Regions from separate parts of the Homo sapiens genome. Here region 2 is reported to be linked to region 1. Evidence: microRNA targets listed by miRTarBase, many of them from high-throughput screens and not tested one by one. Region 1 holds a microRNA gene; the other region holds the end of a gene's coding sequence.

The links. The annotated mature microRNA hsa-miR-3194-3p reads AGCUCUGCUGCUCACUGGCAGU and lies in region 1 at 1,095-1,116, opposite strand. An mRNA with a match to its seed (bases 2 to 7 or 8) in the 3' UTR can be bound and repressed. Matches are read on the target gene's strand: a 7mer-m8 pairs with bases 2 to 8, a 7mer-A1 pairs with bases 2 to 7 and ends in A, and an 8mer does both.
Region 2: miRTarBase lists FAM9B as a target of hsa-miR-3194-3p. Seed matches in the 3' UTR shown: 7mer-A1 at 1,786-1,792.

The regions. Positions count from the first base shown.
Region 1 is chr20:51,451,818-51,454,817 of GRCh38, forward strand. It overlaps MIR3194 (microRNA 3194), which reads right to left and starts at 1,160; the gene lies at 1,088-1,160. It overlaps NFATC2 (nuclear factor of activated T cells 2), which reads right to left. Exons shown (of 11, transcript NM_012340.5): 6 at 2,731-2,871.
Region 2 is chrX:9,022,927-9,026,157 of GRCh38, forward strand. It overlaps FAM9B (family with sequence similarity 9 member B), which reads right to left. Exons shown (of 9, transcript NM_205849.3): 8 at 2,558-2,657; 9 at 1,306-2,451. The coding sequence ends at 2,589. Among named protein-coding and RNA genes, the nearest start is that of FAM9B, 9.6 kb to the right of the region's middle.

The DNA.
Region 1 (3,000 bases):
ACTGTCTCCCGTCAACCCCCAGATGGGACTACCTAGTTGCAGGAAAACAAGCTCAGGGCTCCCAGTGATTCTACATGATGGTGAGTTGTATAATTATTTTATTGTATATTACAATGTAATAATCATAAAAATAAGGTACACAATAAATGTAATGTGCTTGAATCATCCTGAAACCATCAGCCCATCTCCCCAACCCTTGAAAAGAACTGTCTTCCATGCAACTGGTCCCTGGTGCCAAAAAGGTTGGGGACTGCTGGTGCAGAGTCTTCTTGCCTAGAGCAGACTTTACCTTCATCATCTCTGATCCCTCAAGCAACGCTACTCCTCAGCTCACTCCTCAACTCACTGCCACCTGGGTACGTGTGATTCAAATCACCAGAGGCCCCCCAATCACTGGACTCTCAGGCTGACCTCGGGCTCTGTGACCTTCATAGCACTGCCTCTGCTGACCCTTCCCAAGTCTCCTTCCCCTGGTCTCCAGGGCACCAGACTCCCCTGGTTCTCCTCCTCCTGCTGTGACAGCTCCTCCTCTGCCACCTTTAAGGGATGTGGCTCTCAGTTCTCTAAGCCTCCCCTTCTCCCACTGGAGGCCATCCTGGGAGGTCGGAGCCAATTCCCAGGACTTCACCTCAGATCTCATTGCTGACAGCTCCCATGACAACATCTGCAGCCAGGATCTGGTTTCTTAGTCTAGACCACGTGGCCACATACCCACCAATCTCTTGCCTTTCCACAGAGGTGAGATCATGGTTCATCCAAGAAGGCCCATGGGTACATGAGACTCAACGCTTCCACTTCCAAAATGAAACCCGTCCTCCCTGCCCAACCTCATCCCCACACAGACCTCCTCTCCTGTGTGCTAAATCTCAGCTGGCCAAGTGCACCACGTGAACAAAACAATCTCGACACTCAACCTCTTCCCCTTCCCCATCCACAGCAGCTCCAGAAAAACAGCAGCAGCCCCTGCCCCTTACCGAGCACTTCCGGTGCTAAGCCCACTTGCTCTAATTCATTCAGACCTTACCTTTGTGGGTAGGCACTGTCACTGTCCCTGCTTTTCAGGGGATAGATGATGGAGAGTTTCCGCAGGTGACACTGCCAGTGAGCAGCAGAGCTGCCCGGGTGGCACGCAGCCCTCCTGGTGGCTGGCCCTGCCACCTGCGTTCTTAATGCCTCTCTACACCACTACGTCCCATCAAACCTCAGTGACATCTGCCTTCTAAACCACTCCCGACCCATCCCTGCATCTCCCTTCCCCACTGCCACAGCCTTACTTAATACCTTTTTTGTTATTTTTCGCAAAGGCGTCATCAAACCCTTTTAAAATAAATTCTGCCTCTTGTTATGCTTCCAACTGTGAGAATGCAGTTGTCACACCCCGGTCACATGTCCAGCCCATCCCAGAAGGATGATTTGTGCGAGACTGGAAGAAGCACTCTTTGCCTAAGACAGTCTGCTTCCCCCTGCCAGAAGTTGTCTTACTAACGTGTAAACTGGTGATGTATCCAATTTGAATGGCAGCCCTCAGAGGAGGTGCCCTTGTACAGTGCACAATCCCTCCAACTGGACAACTCACCTGTTATATTCTCGGATTGTTCTAAGGACAATAAACAAATAGACAAACATCAACACCCCTTTGAAGTAACCTACTGAAATCATGTCTGTTAAGGAAAAGGAAAATTGGTTCTAGTATCCAAAATAAGTGTCCCAAGTTATTTGAGCTAATTTCCTTCTAACAACACATTTGTTTCATTAATTATTGCTTAATCTGATATTTTCCTACTTCAGATCAGCATCTTTTCTACCACATACCCACTGAAAAAGACACCGATAGTACACCAAAGGAAGAATACACGTGGTGAATAAACAAAACATTATGCGTCTCAGAGCAAGGAAATGCAAAGTAGAAAGAAGTACCAATTCCACAATGATTCCTTTTTAATTTAAAAAAATGGCATTTCTGGGATGGGGGTGAAACTATGACTGACATGATGGCAACTTCAATTTGTAGATTTCTGGAAGGTAATTTAGCAATATGTATTTAAAGTCCTCAGAATGACTATCCAAAATTCCACTGCTGGGAATAAACCCTAAATAAACTAAAAAGATATACATATAGATTCATGTACAAGATTAATTAATCCTAGAAGTATAAGCTGATTCACTGCAGAACTACTTATAATAAAAATACAAGTAGCCAATATTAATTGGCTTATGCTGTACTTGGCACTATTATAATTACGTGACATGTATTAGCTCATTTAACCTCCATGACAACTTTATGGGGTAAGAAATTTTAACGGATAGGTAATATGCCTCGGATCACCAAGCAAGCAGATAACAAACCCAGAATTTGAACCCAAGATATCCAGGGCCAGAGTATGCATGCTTTATCACTGTGCTGTTTGGCCTCCCTTCTTGATAATAGCAAAAAGTTTTAAAAATTTCCTTCCTTATGTAAAAAAGTAATTTTAAAAAAAGGATTGAGGGTGGGAGATAATCTCATTTTCTGTCAAAATGACCTAGAAGAGTTAAAATGTAGAATGGCACATTCATGCAATGGCGAATGGTATGGCCATCACAATCCCTGAAGACACGCTGAGTAAAAAGAGCAGGGTATAAAACTGCACGGTGGGATCTACCCCCCAAAACCAAAGTTGTATATAATAAAGAGATGGTCACTTTTGCATGATTCTGGGGGACAGAGAAAGAGCTCAAAAATCCACTGACCTGTGGTCTTCTCAGTAAACACAACTTTGGACTCGGATGTAAAGTTCTGCCCCGTGAGGATCATTTGCTGGCCGCCATAGACCAGGCAGCTGTCTGTGTCTTGTCTTTCAACCATGGGCAGCTCGTGAGCAGATCGCTGGGCTGCAGGCAAAAGAGAGAGAAGTCACTGTGATAAGGGGAGATGTCTGTTCAAAAGAGGAGGTCTGATTTCATGGTACTGAGATATGACATGCTCTGCCCACCTGTGTCACCTGTTGTTATCTAAAATGT
Region 2 (3,231 bases), not on the chromosome of region 1:
TGTATAAGATATAATATATATTATATTATGTATAAGATATAATATATATTATATTATGTATAAGATATAATATATATTATATTATGTATAAGATATAATATATATTATATTATGTATAAGATATAATATATATTATATTATGTATAAGATATAATATATATTATATTATGTATAAGATATAATATATATTATATTATGTATAATATATAATATATATTATATTATGTATAAGATATAATATATATTATATTATGTATAATATATAATATATATTATATTATGTATAATATATAATATATAATATATTATGTATAATATATAATATATAATATATTATGTATAATATATAATATATAATATATTATAAATAAGTTGGATGTGGTGCACACACCTGTGGTACCAGCCACTCTGAAGGCTCAGGTGAGAGGATTGCTTGAGCCCAGGAGGTCAAGGTTGCAATGAGCTATGATCGTACCACTGCATTCTGGCTGGGCCAGAGCGACACCTGGTCTCTAAAAATAATATGACTTCAAGTACACAGTTACTCATTTGAGGTAGTAAGGGGTGGCATAAACATCAACTGTTCCATCATTAAGTACACTGTGGCCTCTTTCTTGTCCTTCCACTATAGAGTAAATAGTAGTCAGATAACCCAGGATGTACAACAGAACTCAGACATGGACCTCTGCAGTGCTTATTTTGGCTCTGTAACTACTGAAAGAGATCTCAAATAAGGATCTTTTTAGAAACTTAAAGTAGTACTTCATAGTACTTAGTAGTACCAACACACGCTTTGGGTAAAAGGAAAATCCTTTATGAAAATGCAAACTTTAGGAATTAAATGCTCCCCATAGGGACTCACTTATTGCTGTATACGTGACTGCAGGCAGAAAAACACAATCTGAATGAACTTGTTTTTTTTCTTAAACTTGGAAAACCCAGAAAAGGTGAGTGGTATACAGGGGCCAATTAACATAAATAGCACGAGGAAAAATGAGAGGAAGTCACTCCTCTCCTCCCAATGGGAGTACTGTGTTTTGAAGGATTCATGAATGGAATTTCAGAAACTTGGCAAAAGAATACATTTACTTCACTTACTCCATATATATTCTGAATTTCATATTTACTAAATAAAGTGTTTCCAAATGAACATTTCTTTTTTTACATGTTACATGTAAAATTGTTTTACATGTAAAAACATGTACATCTTTTTAACATGTTACATGCAAAAAATCTTTTTACATGTTTGTTATATGTTGTTACATGTGAAAACTGCACATTAAAAAAAGGAAAGGCAGGCGAATTCATCATTCAAGTTTTTAGATGTCCATATAAACTTCCACATAATCCACGAATATTAAACTGGATAAACAAAGCACTCTACAAAATTTACCTTGCCACAGATGTGAAATAATTGTAAGCATACATAAATGTTAACAAAATGCTTTCATTCAATTCTAAGGGGAGGTATCATTGAATGATGGACCAAAACAAACTAAATAGCATTTTGATGTCTGTGGAAATGACATACCCACAAACCAGTGGCTCAGCACTGATATTAATATATCTTGCTCAGTTGCCTTAATCATTTACAGCAGTATAATTTTTTTTAAGAACACAGACAGTAAGGTGCTTTTAATAATTTTGATATGGCCATAGAGTATATCTATTTTTTGAAGTCCTACTTTCATTGGAATTGCCTCTTTATCCTAATGAGTAAATACAAAAGAACGCACAGATAAGATAGCTTTTGTCTTCTTCTTCTTGTTTTCTGAGAAAGAGTCTTGCTCTGTCGCCCAGGCTGGAGTGCAGTGGCACAATCTTGGCTTACTGCAACCTCCAACTCCCGGGTTCAAGAGATCCTCCTGCCTCAGCTTCCTGAGTAGCTGGAACTACACGTGCGTGCCACCACGCCCGGGTAATTTTGGTATTTTTAGCAGAGATGGGGTTTCACCATGTTGGCCAGGCTGGTCTCAAACTCCTGACCTCAAGTGATCCACTCCCCTCGGCCTCCCAAAGTGCTGGGATTACAGGCGTGAGCCACCACACCCAGCAGATATTGTCTTCTTTTATTAGAGAAAAATGTACTTTTCTATGCCTGTGCTTTCTACATTTTTGGAACTGATACAAATCCACAGAGGCCAAATCGAAATCTAAATTATCTTTAATGTTAAAATTTAATTGACCGTGTACATAACTATGCAATCCCTGCTTTCTCACAGAAGTGTCTAGGATTCATTCAACAGATCATAGAAACGAGGTCTGGCATTTAACAGACGAGTGACAGAGGAGCTATACCGATTTATACAACAATTATCAAAACACTGTCATGTAGTTTACTGTAGCTCAAGTTGTGCTTGTATCATATAACATAGGTTCAAGTTCTTTCTTCAGTCATCAGAATAACAGAGGTTGAAGAGACAACTGGGTAAGTGCCAACTTTTCCAAAAGCTGTTTCAAAAAAAAATTTAAGTAACTGTAATACACATTTCTGCAAATAAAATATTCCAGTGCTACATCAATCCTGAGTTTTTAATATTAAATATGCACTACTTACAGTTCTGACATGATTTTATTTAAAAACATGTCTAGTTATCAAGTTCACTGTCTTCATCGGAAAAAACTCTGTCACAAAGGTCTTCAAAGTCCTCAAGAGCCTAAAAGAAAAAGTCTAGTTCACTGACAAACCACCACTTTATATCTCGCATTTTAAACAGGGTTAATTAAATGTCAAAAGGAAACAGCTTTTAATATTCAAAGGATGCCAGTTATTCATTTCAAATAGAAAAAACTATAATCAATACATGGAGCTCCAAATACCCAATTAAATTTTTTAATGCCAGATTTCAGTGACATATTATTTTAGCAGGTCTAACAGTCATGTACTTTGCTTAAATAAAATGGGTTGAAGAACATCTTAAGGTCAAGATGGAGCGAAGACAGAAAAAGACGGGCAGGCTTATATCATGAAATATTATATTTTTTTTCAGCAGGTAGCGACCCATGTATTATCAGCAATAGCCTACATAACATGGTTTCCATTGAAGGGATAAAATGGTTGGTGATATGACCTCATCAAGTTAGAGAAAACGTAACTGTGTTTGAAATATATACTCTTTACTCAACAAATAGTTCAACAGTTCCTACTCCCTAAAATGTTGTAGGTTAATGCTGAGGAAGATGTAAAAAATGAATACACAATCTTCCGTATTTCTATGACATGAGCAAATG